Regions from separate parts of the Homo sapiens genome. Here regions 1 and 3 are each linked to region 2. Evidence: fine-mapped QTL for protein levels in blood plasma. A gene starts in region 2. Each other region holds a variant in brackets. All regions are shown on one strand. Distances are from middle to middle. Region 1 overlaps QPCT (glutaminyl-peptide cyclotransferase). Region 2 holds the start of QPCT (glutaminyl-peptide cyclotransferase). Region 3 overlaps QPCT (glutaminyl-peptide cyclotransferase).

Region 1 (6,962 bases), 23 kb after region 2:
GGGATGTTAGTAGAGGTGACACAAACAGGGGCTGGAAGTGTGCTTGTGCCATTGGGCTTGCTCTTCCGTGTCTTTGCCATAACCATGAGAATGGCATGCCCTGGCTAGCCTGCCAGTCCCAGCAGAAGGATGAGACACCTGGAGCAGAACCAACCTTGCTGACTGCACAGTGAAGCAGAGCTGCCCCAGCCAAACCCATTCTAGATCAGCTGCTCCCTAGCTGACCAGCAGAGGTTATGTATCCCAAGAAGATACATAATGGTATTTTAAGCCACTGTGTTGATGGGGTGTTATTCTATTCTATTATTGCAACATTAGCTAACTGATACAGCCTTGAATGGGGAAGGACTGCAGATAACCCAGACTGTGTGAACGCTGGTAATTAGGCATTTGTAGTGTTACCATGAAGACCTTCATACATCAGGCCAGTCAGATTCTCCTAGCTCCAAGGTACTAGGCTGAGTTACTAGTAACGAAGGCCATGGCTATTTTTCTGCCATTCCTGAAATGAAGCAAAAAGAGCAGGTTGCCTCATGGGACTCAGGATGAATGTCCACAACAGTTTATTGCTGGCTAAATGAATGGATATTAGGCGAACAGAATGAAAGCAAATCGTTGTACTGATCATTGGAGTCTCCCAGCTGTTGAAGTTTCACTGAGGTACTTGAACTGTCAAGCCTGCAAGAGATAAAAACTATTTCCGTTTGCCTATGCCCTGGGCATGAGCAGAATGCCTCTTGTCCCAACCGGTCCCGTTCTGCCCTCTTGTTCTGCGATTATGTTGTCTGATTTGAAGCTAGAACTTTCAAGGCCCTTTAAACAACTGGAAGCTTAGAATGTCTCTACTGAAGCAAGCACCTTACAATTTTTGCCAACGAGAAAATCTGTTTAATTATTTAATGCTTATTAAACCCTGAGTGCATTTATATTGCACAAACACATCCTCTGCTTAATGCTCTCCAGGAGTTATGGAGGATTCAAATCAAATTACACTGTCCTTTCCTCATGGTATAATTAAGGAGCAATATGAAATGATTAGCGTACAAAATTAAGTTAGTTTTCAGATGATAAAGACAATTTTTTTCTCTTTTGAAATCACCGTTAAAACAATCAGGGAAACTCCATTTTTTGAAGAAAGTAGAGAACATCTGTGAATAGGAACCACAATATGAAGACAGAAGTTGGATGGAGAAATGGCAGATGACATATCAGAGTGGAGAGAAGTCACACTGTCCTGGAGAGGGAAGAAATGGAAGAAGCCAGTGGTTTCCTTGATAGAATCCTAAAAAGGCTCAGGAATTAGAGATGTGATAAGCTGAGGAAGGCAGAGGTGAGGAAGGGGCTGGTGTGGAGAGTGTTTCTAAGTCTGTCTAAGGAATATGTGGATGTAGAGATTCCCACCCCACACCAGGCAGGTAAGTGAGTGCCCCCTTGTGCCTTTGCCACAGATGAGAAAATATTTTTCTGGAGAAATTGAACCAGGGAGGTTATGGAATTGAGAATAGCAAGTATACAGGAGGGTGACAGTGGGGCACCCCATGGAAATCGGGGAGATTAGGCGAAAGCCTACACATTGAACAGTGAGATCTATAGTTTCTCTCCCATCTTCAGCACCAGAAAGCCATCAGATAGGAAACTGGAGGATTCTTCTTCAGACCGTGTGAACCACCCCGCAGAAAAATCCCAGATGGTGACATTCAGTAATCCTCAGTGAAAACACTGGCTGGGCACCAGATTGCCTTGCAGTGAAGCCAACCAATCTGTGTCTCCAACCAGCATTTTAATATCTTATTCTTTAACATGAATGAACACAAAGGATGACCAGACATTTGAGGACAGACTCCAGCATGAAAGAAAGGGCCTGGAGCAGTGGCTCATGTCTGTAATCCTAGCACTTTGGGAGGCCGAGGTGGGAGGATTGCTTGAGGCCAAGAGTTTGAGACCAGCCTGGGCAACATAGTGAGGCTCCCTCTCTACAAAAAAAAAAAAAAAAAAAAAATTAGCTGGTTATGGTGGTACACACCTGTAATCCTAGCTACTTGGGAGGCTGAGGCAGGAGGATTGCTTGAGCCCAGGAGTTCAAGGCTGCAATGCACTATAATTGAGCCACTGCACTCCAGCCTGGGCAACAGAGTGAGACCCTGTCTCTTAAATAAATAAATACTTTTTTAAAATGTAAAAAAAAAAAAAAAAAAAAATAGAAAGCAAAACAAATCATACAAATTTAAAATGAAGTGGGAGGAAATAGAGCAGAAAATGACTTAAAGGACACTGTTCTAATATTCTTACAGAGATAAGAGGAGACATTATATCTATGAAACAAAACCAGAATGCTGCAATAACAGAACAATTGGTCAATAAGGAGGAGCTTTTGGAAATTAAAATTTCTATTTTCAAAATAAATAAATCAATAAAACAGTTGGATCCTAAAGTAGAAGAAGTATCTTTTTTTAGAAGAGGAATGACAAAAAGGAGACGATTATGACTTTTGGAGAATAATTGTAACAATTCCAGTTAGGTCATATAAAAAGTATTGGGAATGAGAATGGCACTGGACTTCTCAATAGAAACTTTGGGAGCTAGAAAACAATGAAATTATGCCTTAAATATTTTAAATAAAAATAATTTGCAACCCAGAATCTTCAGACCCAGAAAAATTAAATAGGAAAATAGAATGAAGACATTTTCAGAGGTAAATCTCAACAATTTTCACTCCCATGTACTGTATTTTTGCCCTAGAAGTTGCTTAAAGCTGTGCTCCAGAAAAATCAAGAAAGAAATCAAGGATGAGGGAGTCATGGAGTTCAGCTCACTGGGGGTCCCATATAGGAGAGGCAGAAATCTGCAGGTTGATGGTGAGGGGAGCCCCAAGATAACAAACAGATAGGCAGCAGGCCTAGTGGTCGGTCCAGGCTGGAGCAGGCAGCAGAGGGCTCCGGAAGGGCCCATTCTTAAAAAACAAAACCAGACAGACATGAGAAATAAAGGTGTGATAGTGTCTGGAACGCTTGACCACATAATGGTGAAGACATATTAGGCTCAAAGAAAACAAAGCAAATGAAAGAGAGGCCTGTGGTGAGGAATGGTGGGAAACAGGTTTGCAGAGGCAGGACGAACTGGATTGCGATGTTTGTGTACATGGAAAAGGACAGAAAGAGACAGATCCCCACTGGTTTTTGGTCTGAGTAACTGCAAGGGGGGTTTTGCCATCCATTTGGTTGAAGAGACTGTTGGTAATACAGATTTCCGGGGGAACCTCAGGAGATGAGTTTTGACACTTTGTTCGAGGTGTCTATTAACGTCTATGTGGAGATCTTCATTTGGCAACTGAAATTGTAGTCTGGAGATCGGCAGTGAAGTCAGGGCTGGAGATATATTTTTTGGAATTGATATTTACATGTATGTGTGTGTTGTGTTGTGTGTGTGTATTATTATAATATAATACAATATAATATAACATATAATATGTATATATAGAGAGACCAGCCTGGGCAACATACTAAGGCTCCGCCTCTACAATATTATTATTATTATTATTATTTTAAAATAATTATATTAAAAATTTTATATATATAACAATACACACACAACACAGCACACACACACACACACACAAGACAACACACACATACCCACACATATATGATTTAAAGCCTCAAGAAGAGATATCAAGACAGTGAGTGAGTGTGGACAGAGAAGAGAAGAGAACCATGGAGCAAGCCCCTGAGGCTCTCTAGTGTGAAGAGGGAAGGGAGATGAAGGGAGCCATTAGTGCTAAGGTAGGAGGAATATGGTATCTTAGGAACCAAATGAAGCAAGTGTAGCCAGGAGGGAGTAATTAACTGTGTTGAATGCTGACAATAAGTCAAGAGAGATGAAGACTGAGAGTTGACCACTGGATGTAGCCATGTAGAGTCATTGGTGTCTTGACAAGAGCAGTTTCAGTACACGGTGGAGATAAAACCCAACTGGGCTAAGTTTAAGAAGTGGGATTGGAGACAGCGTGAATAGACAACTCCTTCAAGGGGTTTTGCTATAAATGGGATTACAAAATTGGGCAGTAGATGGTGGAGATAGTGAGGTCAAATATTTTAAGATGAGAAAAGCAACAGCATGTTTGTTGGCCGATGGGAATTATCCAGCAGAGATAGAAAAATTGATGATGTAGGAGAGAAATGGTATTTGCTAGAGCAATGTCCTTGAGCAGATGAGAGAGGATAGGATTTTGTGCATAAGCAGGGAGACTGGCATCTGATATGAGCATGACAGAAAGAAATCAAGGTCATCGGTTGGGAATGAAGATGGGTGAGGTGGCAGGGAGAGGAGGAATGTGAAATCCTAGAAGAGTGCCAGAGTGACTGAACTAAGAAAATACAAATGACTTGCCAGTCAACATGAAAGGCCAATGTGAGGTTTGTGGTCATGAACTTTAAGCAAGGCCAGACAGTGTGGTTATATATTTTTTTCTCTGGTGAGGTTTAGCTGCACGAGTGCTGGCACAAAGTAGGTAGAGTATGTTTTTGCCATGAAAGTTTGACAAAGGCAGAAAGGGGCAAGGGAGTTGAGGGTGTATGCTAGTGAGTGATTGGCATGATTGACTGGAATTTAAGCCAAATATAGAGTGAAGTGAGGACATTATGGGGGTGAAGGACCATGAAAAGGTGAAACATTCAGTAGATTAGGGGTTCCAGTGGGATTGAAGGACTTTGGAGTTTAGAGTACCAGGACCAATCTGAAAGACAGGGGTTATTGTCAGACGGAGGAAAGTGTAAAATCAGTTAGAATCCTAGTCACTCTTTTTAGTTCCATTCAAATACTGTCTTTTTCATAAAGCCCTCCTTGACACCCCCAGGATTTTGCTTCTCATTCTATCCAATTTCTAGAGGACTTTAATGTTACATTTGTGGCTGGTGGCACATTTTGCCATGCTTATGTATTTGTTTTATCTCTCCCCAACCCAACTAAAGTATAGGCTATTTCAAGGGAAGGGCTATAATTATTATTCTTCGTGTCTGTAGCATTCCTAGGGCAGACTCTTGAAGCTAGACTCAGTACAAAATTGAAGATGTAAATAAGGTGAGAAGCAAGAAAGATTTACAGTTGTTTCAGGTTGGATTCCCCAAGAAGCGCCCTCTGACATGGAGTTTAGTATTCAGGTCACTTATTAGGGAGTGGCCTTGGATCAACACAGGTATCAGGGAGGGGAAAGAAATGGTGTTGGACGGAGGAAGAAGTCGAGCTGCAGTGCAGGTTCAACAACGGCCTCAGCCAACCCCTGCGGAGCTCTGGAGATATGATGGCTCTTTAGAGAGCCCCCCGTACCCGTGTAGGTCAGCACTGGATGTGGGACACTCCCAGGAGGTGCAGCTGAGGCAATTCCTAAAGTGACTGACGGCTCTTCCAGCAGCTGAGGCAACACACCCTCCTGTATGGGAAGTGGGTGGTGTATCACACGATTCATCACAGCACTTTCATTGTTTCAAAATTCTGTGAGGAGTAAGAAAAAATATAAAAGACTTCTATTTTCAGAGGGAATGGAAGAAGGTGGTTTATATGGGTGAAGACTGTGGGAGGTGTGATGACTTTTGAAGAGGAAGTGGTGTGGAATAAATTTTGCCATAGTTTCACTTGCTTTGGTATCTTCCTTTCTTTATGGCACATCTATCTTTTTGCCCAATTAATAGAAAATCATGCTATTTTTCATCATCACAGTATTTTTTTGCTATGTTTTTATTGTTGTTTTTACCAGACTGTTTCAGACTCCAAGCCAGATTTGTCACTCCAGCTGATCTTCTTTGATGGTGAAGAGGCTTTTCTTCACTGGTCTCCTCAAGATTCTCTCTATGGGTCTCGACACTTAGCTGCAAAGATG[G/C]CATCGACCCCGCACCCACCTGGAGCGAGAGGCACCAGCCAACTGCATGGCATGGTTAGTCTGGGCAATTTCCCTAGCACTGTAGCTGTAGGCTCCGCTTCCAAGGAAAAGGTTGCAAAAGCCAAGTAAAGACCTAAAAATGCCACAGCATCCTTGGAGCACAGTGTTTATGATAGAACATTCCTTGGCAGGCATTGGGTTTTTGAGGAATCCCAGAGCTAAAAAGAATGATTCTGAGCTGGCTCTGTGGCTCATACCTGTAATCCCAGCATTTTGGGAGGTTGAGGTGGGAGGATCACTTGAGCCCAGGAGTTCGAGACCAGACTGGGCAACATAAGGGGACTTCGTCTCTACAACAAATAAAATAATTAGCTGGGTGTTGTGTATGCCTGTAATCTTAGCTACTCAAGAGGCTAAGGCAGGAGGATTGTTTGAGCCCAGGAGTTCGAGGCTGCCGTGAGCTATGATTGCTCCATTGCACTCCAGCCTGGGTGACAGAGGGAGACTCTGTTAAAAAAGAAAGAAAGAAAGAAAAATTGCTGGTTAGAAGCCATGTTTGACTGAGCTTAATTAAAATGATAAAATCATGTAAAAAATTGGATTACAGGAACTTCAGATTCAGTTGGGCCCAATGGGAGCACATTCCCCCAGTACTGTATGGAGGTGGAGAGAGCAAACCCCTTCTTTCAGGCCTTTATAAGTCTGAAGAACATGGGGCTTTGGGAAATGGAATAAAAGAGGGGTGAGGGTGAAGAATTTCCTTGGTGGCTTCAAAGTATTACCGTGACTCCAGTGTGACTATGACAGTTTGATGTGTTGGTTTTGATGTGGCATTTTTGACATGGGGGTGGGGATATTTTGATGCTGCCTTAAAACCCTGCTATTATTACTAAGTAATGAGTGCAACACACAGCCTCATTTTCATCCCCATTCCTGGGCCCACACTCCATCCCTAATCCCTCCCCCGACCCCTGCATCTTCTCCTGACTCTGACTCTCTTCCCATATTTGATCTTCTTTCTGTCCCCACGTCTTCACTAACCCCAGCTTGGAACCTCATGCTACCCTTGAGACTTCACTAGCCCCGGTGC
Region 2 (6,773 bases):
ATGCAACATGACTATTAATGTTATAGTTAATCTGATTATATGATTTTTGCTGATGTATTTCTCAAAGTGTGTGACTTCATGCAATGATTCTCAGCCGTGGCTGCACGTTAGAATCACCTGGGGAGCTTTTAAGCGATCTGACGCCCAGACCACACACCAGGCTAATCATATCAGAATCTCTGGGGGTGGAAGTCAGACATCACCATTTTCTAAAAAAGGCTTTCTAGATAATTTCCATGTGTAGCTACAGTTGTAAGCATTGGTTTAATGTATTATCATCTGTCTCTCTCAAGTAGAATGGTTTTAACATAGTGATTCTCTAATGTTTTGGTCTCAGAACTCCTTGCATTAGTAACAGTAATTGAGGACCACAAATAGCTTTCATTTATGTGGACCATGTCTATCAATATTTATTGTATTGAAAATTAGAACAGGCATTTTACAAATACTTAATTATGGATTTATTTTAAAAGAATAAAGTCATTGCATCTAAAGACACATGTTTTATGAAAAAATACATTTTCCAAAGTAAAAAGAGTTTAGTGAGAAGATTGGCATTTAAAAAAATCTCTTTAATTTCTGACTTTTTAGATGACAACTGGATTCCCATATTTGCTTATGCATTCCACCTGTTGTGATATATTATTTTGGCTGAAGTACATGAAGAAAATTTGACCCCACACGGACATGTAGTAGGAAAAAGGAAGAGTATTTTAATAGCCTCTTCAGATAACTGTGGATAATCTCCTTCATTATTAAATCAAAACATAACAAATGATAGTGTCATAAAAGGTACAACTTAAAATCTGCTTCTAAATACATGTTTTTATTCCATTACATTAAAATCCACTGGGTGTCTCTTATACTTTGAGTGGAACTTTTCTTTGTGACTTTGTAACATGATGAATTGAACATTTGGAAAATATTGCTTCACTGAGTTATGCAGATATTCCAAATGTTGAGCATTTCATTATATATAATAAATAATCACATTTGTTAAAATCACCAATTTTGTCATAAAAGTTGTTGCATATCAGGAAACTATCAAGCTTATGGTAGCAGATACAAGTTATCCAAAATTCCAATTTTTACTGCAAAGATCCAGTTTTATCACTGGCAACAAACAGTGTCAGTTATTTTCCTTCAAGGGATAGGCGCACTTTATTCATCTTCAAATGTCTGCCAAATATCCAAGTCTGAATAATCATAATTTATCAGTCATTGTTCTTTCAATTAAATTGGAATTTCATGAAAAAAGTAGCAAGTTCACTATGCTTCTCTCTCTCTCTCTTTTTCTTTTTTTGAGACTGTCTCTCTCTGTCACACAGGCTGGAGTGCAGTGGTGTGATCTCTGCTCACTGCAAACTCTGTTTCCCAGGTTCAAGTGATTCTCCTTCCTCAGTCTCTGGAGTAGCTGTGACTACAGGCACCTGCCACCATTCCCAGCTAATTTTTGTATTTTTAGTAGAGATGGGGGTTTTATCCTGTTGGCCAGGCTGGTCTTGAACTCCTAACCTCAAGTGATCCACCTGCTTTGTCCTCCCAAAATGTTGGGATTACAGATGTGAGCCACTGCGGCCCACTATACTTCTGAAACAACGGTACAAATGCTTTTCTTTGAGACAATTGCCCTTTGGTGTGCAGCAGAAGTGTTTGATTTCTACGTCTTATTTTCCCATGTGAGTATAAAGAGCTGCATACTCTCAATTTGTGCTTCCAGTTAAGATGGAACTGGATTTGTCATCCCACCTAAAATATATTAAAAATGACATTCACAATGGATTGGATAAAGAAAACGTCACACACACACACACACACACACACACACACACGCACACACACACACACACCCTGGAATACTACCAGCAATTAAAAATAACAAAATTTTGTCTTTTGTAACAACATGGATGGAACTGGAGGCCATTATCTTTAGTGAAACAGCTCAACTAGCACATGTTCTCACTTATAAGTGGAAGCTAAATAATGTGTACACAATGACATGAAGAGCTGAATAATAGACATTGGAGACTTGGAAGGGTGGGAGGGTAGGAGGGATGAGAAATTACCTGATGGGTAAATGTATACTATGTTTTCAGGTGATGCTTACACTAAAAGCCCAGACTTGTCCACTATGCAGTATATCCATGTACCAAAACTGCTCCTGTACTCTCTAAGTGTATAAAAATTTTTAAAATGATGCTTAAATATTGGAAAAGAGGTATCACAGGAAAGTGGTGAGAAAAGGGAAAATGAAATGAGATGAGCCTGATGTTTTCTCCAGCTTACTGCTTTGAGAGTTTCCAGGATGCAGTGCAGGTAGGAGGAGTCCACACAGAGCTGGTGGTCTCCATGAGATGAAAACGCAGACGTGAGGAGCTCTCTCTCCTCCTGTACTCTGTCCTGCTAGATTTAAAATCTAGCTTCATGGAGAGACAGCTTCAGAAGGCAGTAAAACAACAATTTTATTACTTCATCAATGACATTCTTAAGTGAAACTGGCTCTTTTTCTTTTCTTTTATCGTCCTCTTCTTTTTTTTTTTCTTTATGCGTGGCAGTGAAAAATACTAAGATGGCTGGGTATGGTGGCTTACGTCTGCAATCCCAGCACTTTGGGAGGCCGAGGCAGGTAGATCACCTGAGGTCAGGAGTTCGAGACCAGTCTGACCAACATGGTGAAACCCTGTCTCTACTAAAAATACAAAAATTAGCAGGGTATGGTGGTGCATGCCTGTAATCCCATCTCCTCAGGAGGCTGAGATAGGAGAATCGCTTGAACCTGGGAGGCAGAGGTTGTAGTGAGCCGAGATGGCACCATGGCACTCTAGCCTGGGAAATAAGAGTGAAACTCCTTCCAAAAAGAAAGAAAGAAAGAAAAACACAATGACTACAAGTATAGATTTTCCTCCTCAATAGTACAGTTTTGTGTCCTGTATTGACAGTTGCTAAGGTGCCAGCATTTTTACCCATCATTGCTTTTGCAACATCAGTGCAAAGTCTATACAGTAGAAAAAATGAATCTTGTTTTGGTATTATTATAAAAGTTGATTTGACTTTGGAGACAGCCAAGAGGGTCTTGGGGAATCCCCAGTATCCATGGACCACACTTTTGAAAACTATTGTTTTAATAGAACCTTCTGGTCATTACTACTTTGATCTAATGGCGCCACTTTAAAGGTGGGACTGGGTGTAGGAACATCCTGCCATGGCAGCTTCATGGAGAAGATCTGTTTTGGCAATTGGGTCCTTCATTTCCTTCACATCACAGTATGGAATCTATACTATAATGGAGGTAAAAATTTCTCCACTTGAGAACAGTGTTATCACTGTATATACAACACATTTTTTCCATGATGAAAAACAGGGTCTGAAACTTTAATTAAAATGGAAAAGTCATTAGTTATCTTCCATGGGAAGAGTTTGAAGAAAGGAAAAGTTGAAGTAGGGCAAAAATAGCAGATATAAGGTATTTCTAAACGTTTCCCAAATGAAGGAAGAGAGAAAAGAATGAGCGAAGGAAAGGAAAAGGGTATTTAGTGTGTAAGACACTAGAAAAGATATGCATAAGGAATGAAGTGATACATACATAGTGGTGTTGGATTTGTAGATTCTTGGAAAGTTGGCAGAAAAGCTTACATGTAAAAAAAAAACCAATGTATTGAAATCAGTCTCACTAGCTATGTGGAATGTTTTAGATTTGTACCAGATACAATACGTTTGTGGTGGATACAGGAGATGCGCTGCCCAGATCTGCCCCCAGGGAAGGACCCTGCTCCAGCTGTTGGAGGCCGGCTGGCCCACAGCCTCTAGCAGTCAAGCTCTTTTGGCTGGAAAGCCGCTTGCAGGAAATCACTCCATGGAGGTGCAGAGATAAGGCCCCAGACATTTTGGCCCAGTATGGGACAACTTTGACCGTCTTTTTCAGCTTCAGGACTCCCATGGAGTTGGGTGAGGTTGTTGGGCCCGCTTTGCTGCTAACTTCTCCCTCTGTTCTCTCCTGTTCCCCTTCTTCCTCCCACAGGGGTTTGTCCCAAGGGCACTCCCTAATACACATCCTGCATGTTAAACTCTTGTCTCAGAGTCTGCTTCCTGTAGATACCAAACTGTAAGAACATCTTATTGACTTAAATATAACCAAAATTGGAGAAACTTAGGAAACAAAATCATCATTACGTTATGTGCTGACATTTTAGCTTATTTCTATATTTCTTGTTTTGAATTGCTCATACTTAGCATGATAGTACCTCTCACATTTTGTTTCATTTAGGTTTGCTATTTCCACGTTCTCTTTCTTATAGGAACCATATTGTGAAAAGACATAAAGGTAATAGGGTAAAAAAAAGCAAATAGGCTCTTTATTACCCAGCCACTCAGGAAATGCACTATTTCAAGGTTGACCCAGGCAGCAAGAGAGGAGCTGTATTGGGGAATGTGACAGTGGTTTAGTTCTGAAACTGGAGCCAGTAGAAAGTTCTGAAGGGGGTCCGATGATCAGAACTGTCTGTGGGTTTAATAAAGGTGTATTTAATTTTATTTAAGCCTGGAGATTTAAATTGTCACTCAAAACTCTCAGACATGAATAGGGTTAGCAAATCTGTACACCAGGAAAGGAGTTATTTACATCCTGTCTTCTCCTACAGCTCCAGAGGAGGGCAGAACAGTGTATTTCCAGGCAAGCCCTCTCTTTAAAAACTCATAGCCAAGGCTGGGAAGACAGAGTGAGTGGGTGGGCCTTCTGGCAGCTTCCTTACCTTCAAATCTTTGCTCTCTGTGAAATGGTTCTGCTTCAGTATCCTTGTTCTGATTTTTCTGGGAACTAGATGTTACTGGGAGATGACTCAGAGCAGGCCAAGCCCTGATCCTCACTGTGGAAGCAAAAGAGGCTGGTGAAAGTCACTGTCCTGACAACTTGGACCAGAAACCTACAGACAAAACTGAAATGTTTTCCTGCCCTAGGATTATCTGGATAACAATGACCTTTGATGTTACAAAGTAAATAGAATTGTGTTTGGCTTTTCCTTTTGGGGCCATGCCTTGGAGAAGATGACTCCTTCAGAGCCGCTGTGAATATTGTAGATCTCATTATTTCAGATAATTACTTTGACCATCCTTTTCAATTTGAGAGTATGATGTGAGGCAAGGCAACTATTTGTGAGAAAAAAGAGAAAAGGCAAAGATCCACTGTCATACTTTTGCTTGTGGGTTCCAGTCCAGGCTTTCTATGGGGGGTGGGGGGGTGTCTCAGTCTCCCCGTCTGTAAAATGGGATTAGTGGATTAAATCCGGGAAGGTTGGACAAGCACCTAGGACGGTGCCTGGTGCCGTGTTCAGCAGACGTCGATTCCCTGTCCACCCCTTCTTTAGGAGCTGTGGGAAACACTTCATAACTCCCCAGGGTCTGGTGAACCCTTCCTCCCTTTTCTGTTCCCTGTTTTGGCATTGGAGATCATAAAAAGGCTCTTCCATGTCTCTTGCTTCCTTCCTTTCATCTTCTCCAAGAGAAGGAAGTGGCCGCCTTTGTTAGCTTGGGTTCAGAAGCTTGTGTCTGTCACCCAGGGCCGCCCAGCCCCGGGGTTTGCGAAGGTCCGGGGTAGGAGGGCTGCAGCCTGCGCGACGCGGCGGGAGGCTACCCGGGGGCGATGGGAAGGCGGGCGCAGTCGACCCAAGGGTGGAGAAGAGGGAAGGCGAAGGACGCGCGTTCCCGGGCTCGTGACCGCCAGCGGCCCGGGGAACCCGCTCCCAGACAGACTCGGAGAGATGGCAGGCGGAAGACACCGGCGCGTCGTGGGCACCCTCCACCTGCTGCTGCTGGTGGCCGCCCTGCCCTGGGCATCCAGGGGGGTCAGTCCGAGTGCCTCAGCCTGGCCAGAGGAGAAGGTGAGGGGCTGTTTCTGCGTAGTTGTACTTGAGCGGCTCTGGTCCGATGCGAGGACCCCTGGCCGGGTCAGCCCTACCTAGGCAGAGCGGGAGGCGGGGCAGGGCCACGGTCCCCAGCCCAGGCACCGGCGCCCCACCCGGCGCCCGGAGGAGTCGGGGCTCTGCATACTCGCCGGGGTGCCTCGGCCAGTCCGGGGCTGTTCTGGAGACGCCAGGGGGGCTGGGTGATGTCACTGGCCTCTCCTGGGCTGCGGTCTGATGGGGGTGCTGATAGGCACAGGAAATGTGTCTCGCCGGCGGCTGCTGAGCCGGGAGGCGAGGGCGCATCGCGGCGCCACCCCCCACTCGGGACCCTGGAGGGCAACGGGGCCGGCGCTCCGGGGCCGCTAGGGTGCGGGGTGCGCCTGGGGGTGTGCCCACAGCCCCCCCGCTGCTTCATCCAAGGATGCTGCTGGGGCGCTGAAGTGTCCCTACAGTCTCAGGACGGATGTGTGTTGTTTGTTTTAGATTTTTAAAAGGAGCAACTCGGCAGGAAGGACCTTTACTGGAGACCTGCTTACTTCAAAAGCCTTTTTCCTCCACTTAAAAGAGGGTACCTGCTATTTTCAGAGAAAATGGATCTAGTTGTAGGTAGAAATCGCATATAAGGAACTTAGGATAAAAGTGATTTGCAAGTTCCCTCTGTAAGAAGTGTATGGGTTCGGCCGGGCGGGGTGGCTCACGCCTGTAATCCCAGCACTTTGGGAGGCCGAGGCGGGTGGATCACGAGGTCAGGAGATCGAGACCATCAGGGCTAACATGGTGAAACCCTGTCTCTACTAAAAAATACAAAAAATCAGCCGGGCGTGGTGGCACGCACCTGTAATCCCAGCTACTCGGGAGGCTGAGGCAGGAGAATGG
Region 3 (6,274 bases), 30 kb after region 2:
GATTGGAGCTCCAAACCCAACGTTTCCCAATTTTTTTCCAAACTCAGCCAGGTGGTTCGAAAGACTTCAAGCAATTGGTAAGCACCACTGTTATTAATGAATAAAACATCATTTCTTGCTACTGACAGATACTACATTTTTAACATTTAAAATTTATAATTTGGCTGGGCGCAGTGGCTCACACCTGTAATCCTAGCACTTTGGGAGGCCAAGGCAGGCAGATCAGCTAGGGTCAGGAGTTTGAGACCAGCCTGGCCAACATGAAACAGGGCTTTCATGTTTAGTAGAGACGGGGTTTCACTAAACAAATACAAAATAAATACAAAAATTAGCTGGGTGTGGTGGCGGGCACCTGTAATCCCAGCTACTTGATAGGCTGAGGCATGAGAATCACTTGAACCTGGGAAGCAGAAGTTGCAGTGAGCCAAGATGGTGCCATTGCACTCCAGCCTGGGTGACAGGGTGAGGCGCCATCTCAAAAAAGAAAAAAAAATTATAATTTAAGTATATGATTTAAATGTGTAATATACTTTATTGGCTTTTTTTCTTGCTTAATTGATTAGTTTATTATTCTTTTCATCTTTGTAGTAAGCCCAGTTTATTTTCCTGCATGAAACTATATTTTGAAATGGAAACATAAAATACTACATTTCATGTTTGCACATCCTTAAAAATGGTTTGAAAATATTTGAAAATATTTTCCCAGAGTCCTGTTTGAAGCAGGTAGAATGCGTTTCGAGAGAAAAGTTTACTCAACAAAGCATGCTGGCTAATGATGAATATGATGTCCTTATAATGATACCAAAAGATATTCTTCAGTTTTTCTTTTCCATCTCTGTCTTTGCCATCTTCTATTTTCTACCTTATCCAGATATTATTTTCCTTTAAATCTAGTACAGTCTCTGCCAATTTTCCAAAGAAGCAAGAGATCAGGATAAAGAGAAAGCCAGATCCTTTGAGATTTAGAGTCAAATAAATGGGAGTTGACTAGGCCAGACCAGGTCAGGTCAGGCCAGCCCAAGAAACATACGTATCTATGGCTGAAGAGGGGAGCTTGGGGCTTGGAGAAAGAAAAGGAGAATAACTTTGTACTACCACCCTACCCAAAACAAAACAAAACAAAACAAAGCAAACTCTTGGCAGGCATCAGGGAAAGATGAAAATGAGATTGATCTTTATTGTAGAATCCAGGCCAGGGGGCTGCTTTGAAGGCAAGAATTTCATGCTAGAAATTCCTTACTAGCCACACAAACTTCTTGGAGCAAGATAGACTTGTATTACTTCTAACAGTGGGAAAAACACTGCCATCATAACTCACACTTTTGCCATGAGTAAAGAATTTGTCTAGAATCTTAGAGAAACTTCTGCTTGAACTTTAGGTGCATGTCATTGACAAATTTCATTTCCTAGTTTGAAAGAGTTACTCTAATGGTGTTATTAATATAAACTTCTTGGGCTTCTTCCTTGCAGCATATTTTCCTTACTTTGATGGTAGCCTTGAGAAACTGAGTTTGGCTTTCTTTCAAGGATTTTGTGCACTTTTATTATGTCCTGTACCAGAATGAACTTATGCCAATAACTTGCACCTTCATTCAATTTTAACCCATTGTGCCCCTCCTATTGGTATTTACATTTCAAACCATATCTCTAGTTGTATAAGAGAAAGCAGTGAGCTGAGGTGGCGCCACTGCACTCCAGCCTGGGCGACAGCGAGACTCCATCTCAAAAAAAAAAAAAAAAAAAAAGAAAAAGTTGTGTCTCATGGTAAAGGAATTATAAGTATCAATAAACAGACAAGAATATTGTTTTTGGTGGTAGTTAGGGCTTTCTCAATGTTTCTAGAATCATATTACATATGATTGATTACTAGTTGGTTTAGTTTTACCTTAGCTAGTTCCTAGCTATCCTAGGAAGTTTCATTTGGTTGTCTTATAATATTCATGTAATCTCTTGTCATCTTGTAACATACAATACATGACTTATGTAGGCCAGTGGTTCTCAAACTTTAAAGTGCATCAGAATCACCTGGAGGGCTTCTTCCACACAGATTGCTGGACTCCAGCCCCAGAATTTCTGTAAGTCTGAGATGGGACCAGATAATTTGCATTTCTGACACGTTCCTAGGTGTTGCTGATGTTGCTGGTCAGACATCACACTTTGAGAACCACTGATGTAGGTCACACTAGGTATCTCTTTCCCATAGAGTGGCCACTTGATATACTTCATCTCTACTCTGTTTGAGTATTCCCCTTTTAAGCCCCATATCTCATCTAAGGCATTCTTCATGCAGCATCTTGGACCTATAAGCATCTACACCTGCACCTGTGTTGTCCCCTTCCACCCACCTGTCCTCTGTTTTTTTCATTCTCTATCTCTTCACTGTTCTGTGGAGTTTCTACCTCTAAGGAGGTTCTCACCTGTAAGTTTAGAGCCACATTTGACTCTTCTCTCTTCCTGCTCCAAAGTGTACACATCCCTGTTCAACCCAGATGTTTATTGTCATGGGTGTGGCCATGCTTGCTGTTGCATAATCTTTTACAAATTATGGACACATGTGCTAAGATTTCAAACTCCTTAAATAAGGATACATTATGAGTCTTGATAAGATAAAAATAGTTGTTCATTTACTGTATAATTGTCATCTACAGAACATGAACTTCATGAATTGGGTTTGCTCAAGGATCACTCTTTGGAGGGGCGGTATTTCCAGAATTACAGTTATGGAGGTGTGATTCAGGATGACCATATTCCATTTTTAAGAAGAGGTAATGTGTGTGTGTGTGTGTGTTTGTGTGTGTGTGCGTGCACAGCCTGATTTTGGAGTACAACGGTGGGATATGAGAAAGTACACAGATGATGATGAATTATCAGCTGTCTTTATGTGGTACAGAGCTCCCTCTGCTTGAAGAATGACCCTTTCTAGTTTACTCACTGGAGTAATGCACATTGTTACAAGTTGGTTCTTTCTTAATAGGTGTTCCAGTTCTGCATCTGATACCGTCTCCTTTCCCTGAAGTCTGGCACACCATGGATGACAATGAAGAAAATTTGGATGAATCAACCATTGACAATCTAAACAAAATCCTACAAGTCTTTGTGTTGGAATATCTTC[A/C]TTTGTAATACTCTGATTTAGTTTAGGATAATTGGTTCTAGAATTGAATTCAAAAGTCAAGGCATCATTTAAAATAATCTGATTTCAGACAAATGCTGTGTGGAAACATCTATCCTATAGATCATCCTATTCTTATGTGTCTTTGGTTATCAGATCAATTACAGAATAATTGTGTTGTGATATTGTGTCCTAAATTGCTCATTAATTTTTATTTACAGATTGAAAAAGAGGGACCGTGTAAAGAAAATGGAAAATAAATATCTTTCAAAGACTCTTTTAGATAAACACGATGAGGCAAAATCAGGTTCATTCATTCAACGATAGTTTCTCAACAGTACTTAAATAGCGGTTGGAAAACGTAGCCTTCATTTTATGATTTTTTCATATGTGGAAATCTATTACATGTAATACAAAACAAACATGTAGTTTGAAGGCGGTCAGATTTCTTTGAGAAATCTTTGTAGAGTTAATTTTATGGAAATTAAAATCAGAATTAAATGCTATGTTGTGATGTCTTTTTTATATATAAAAATAGTGATATAATTTAATGCATAGTCCAATTTTTATAGGATTTTGCAAATTTAACGTTCTCATTGTAAAAATAATAGTCAATAACAAACATTTTGGAAAATGGAGAAAAGAAGAAAACTATAATCCCATTATATTAACAGAATCACCATTAGTTCGCTTTTTAGTTTTTCCTCACTTTTTCTTTTTTTTTTTGAGACAGGGTCTCACTCTGTTGCTCAGGCTGGAGTGCAGTGGCATGATCATGGCTCACTGCAGTCTTGACCTCCTCGGCTCAAGCGATCCTCTCACCTCCACCCTACGAGTGATTGGGACTACAGGCATGCACTACCTAGCTAATTTTTTTGCCTGGCTAATTTTTTTGGTATTTTTGTATGGATGTGGTTTCTCCATTTTGCCCAAGCTGGTCTTGAACTCCTGGGCTCAAGCATTGTTCCTGTCTTGGCCTCCCAAAGTGCTGGGATTATAGGCACGAGCCACTGCATCCAGCCTCCTCACATTTCTTAAATGCAGATTTTTCTTATAAAGGTATAATCAAACTGTATTACAATTTTTTGGCCTGTTTTTTCCTGTTAAACTATGTGATTACCAGGCATATATTTGCTGTTTTGGTTTTGGATTGAGGTGAGGACAGAAAAAGACTGCTGAATGTGAACTCTAGAGTCAACATTAAGGTAACACAGTAGTACTGCAGTAGTTGTGACAATTTTTGTGTAGATAGATTATATGGTATTCGTTCGGTTAGTTACTTAGAGCATTTTTTTCTGGAAATACATAGGCATTCATAAGTTGTCTTTAGCTATAGGAAACAATTATCTAGAAATACAAACTTGATCAATTAAATAATTAGGAAATCGTTCCTGGCATACAGATGAAGTTAGTTGGGGCCACTGTCTTCTGTGTGTTCCCTGTTCGGACAAGACATTTAGTAAATACTCAGTGAATTAATGTGCCGAATGACAATGGAAGTCATTGGGAAAGTAATTTACTTGCTAAAACATAGTTTTCAGGTAAGAAAAGGATAAAAATAATTTCATCAATTTGACTATGTAAATTATATAGAATATAGCCAGAATTATATATGTATACTTAGGTATTTTCTATGCTATATATAACATTTATAGATAAATATATATTACATTTATATATACTTATATATAACATTACCTGTCTATAATTTCATGTTGGTAAATTTTACAGAATTAGATTTTTCTAGGATTCTTTTTTATTTTCTAAATGTCCTTCCAAAGTCATGTAAATGAAAGTCGTGTGTTTGTGAATTAATGATATTAAGAGCTAACACTTAGACTGAGTGCTAACTCTGTGCCAGACAGAGTCACATATGCTTTATATGTTTTACTAACTTAATCCCCACAACAATTGTGTGAGGTAGGTGTTAGTAAGCTTACTTTATGATGCTCAGAGTAGTTAAGTGTATTTTCCAATATTACATAACTAGTAAGTGGTAATAGTGGGAGTTGTACCCAAGAAGTCTAGCTCTAAAGCTTATACTTGGGAACCATTCTAGAATATTGCCCATTTACATGAAAAGAACTATACAGAATATTCCCGATGCCAAATGCAAAGCAATAGTTGTATCTTGAAATTTTTATAGGTCATTTCAAACTGGGGATGCATTCTTAGGTCATTGCTGCCACGATTCACCTGACAACATAGGCTTCAGAGACACATAATTTCTATGCAGAATGATTACTCTGCCGTAGTGAAGGCTATTTTTGCGTAAGTGTGGGTATATACAAATCAACACGAGTGGTTCCAGGCTAAAGTATCTAAGCCACAAAGCAGGATTAAAGGGAGCTGAGTTTTCTGGATTTTTTGGATGAGAGAAAACATATGGAAAGAGTTCAGGGAAAACACATATTTTTTAACATGAGAAAATAAATGGTCTAACAGACTGATGATATTAAAACAGAATGAAATGAAGTTTTAATGAGGAACCTAAACATTAGTCGACAGTACTGCATACATAATTATAAGCCTAAATGATAAGCTCCTTTGGAGGCAAAATGAAATTAATAAGAGATCTACTATAATCTGTTGAGTTCACATTAGTTGAATTATTTTTAGAGGAGGTTGGTGGATATGTTGAAATGGGATAAAAGAAAAAATAAAACCATAAGCAGCTTAATTCAGTGAAGGTTTTCTTCCTTTGAAAAGACATATCCTCAAATTCTACTCACTAAGAGTTTGCACTGATATAGGAAAAGCAGCCATGATGTCATAAACGGAGACATTTTAAGGCATTAACCTGATATTAGTCTCTGAAATATGCTCTGTATAATTCATGTCAGTCAGAAATATTACTTTCTAAAAATTATAGCTGCAAAGGCAGTGCTCCATAAACATCAGGTTGCATTTGGAATTTTTCTATGTGCATTTTGGAGCATTTTACTGCCCCTAAGAGAACAATTTGTACGTTTTGTCTGTTATTGTCAATCCTGCAATATGTAGGGCTATTTTTCTTCTTCAAGAGAAATGAGTTCAAAGGAAAATATTCATAAAAGAGTATTCATAACCTTGGCATCTAAAAAAATCATGAGCCTGTTATTGTAGCTCGAGGGTTGTGGCTGGAAGAGAAAAGACAGATCCTTCAAAAAGGAGAAATGTTTTAGA

What was found. PIP is the chance, under the fine-mapping model, that this variant and not a neighbour inherited with it causes the effect. Protein levels are from antibody-based Olink assays in UK Biobank. Linkage for the fine-mapping came from a reference panel and not from the study's own genotypes, which makes the PIPs less certain.
Region 1: its variant is fine-mapped to the plasma level of the QPCT protein (UK Biobank, PIP above 0.99). The variant lies in the coding sequence of QPCT. If it changes the protein, the assay may bind it differently, which can mimic a change of level.
Region 3: its variant is fine-mapped to the plasma level of the QPCT protein (UK Biobank, PIP above 0.99). The variant lies in the coding sequence of QPCT. If it changes the protein, the assay may bind it differently, which can mimic a change of level.

The regions. Positions count from the first base shown.
Region 1 is chr2:37,361,483-37,368,444 of GRCh38, forward strand. It overlaps QPCT (glutaminyl-peptide cyclotransferase), which reads left to right. Exons shown (of 7, transcript NM_012413.4): 4 at 5,750-5,926. Among named protein-coding and RNA genes, the nearest start is that of QPCT, 20 kb to the left of the region's middle. The variant G/C (reference allele first, on the strand shown) is at 5,873.
Region 2 is chr2:37,338,979-37,345,751 of GRCh38, forward strand. QPCT (glutaminyl-peptide cyclotransferase) reads left to right here and starts at 5,652. Exons shown (of 7, transcript NM_012413.4): 1 at 5,652-5,873. The coding sequence starts at 5,754. LOC124907754 (a long non-coding RNA gene) reads right to left here and starts at 6,077. Exons shown (of 2, transcript XR_007086284.1): 1 at 4,749-6,077; 2 at 438-1,749. RefSeq lists a silencer at 6,023-6,082.
Region 3 is chr2:37,369,708-37,375,981 of GRCh38, forward strand. QPCT (glutaminyl-peptide cyclotransferase) reads left to right here. Exons shown (of 7, transcript NM_012413.4): 5 at 1-77; 6 at 2,649-2,765; 7 at 2,975-3,615. The coding sequence ends at 3,120. It overlaps LOC107985868 (a long non-coding RNA gene), which reads right to left. Exons shown (of 3, transcript XR_001739403.3): 3 at 5,565-6,274. Among named protein-coding and RNA genes, the nearest start is that of QPCT, 28 kb to the left of the region's middle. The variant A/C (reference allele first, on the strand shown) is at 3,113.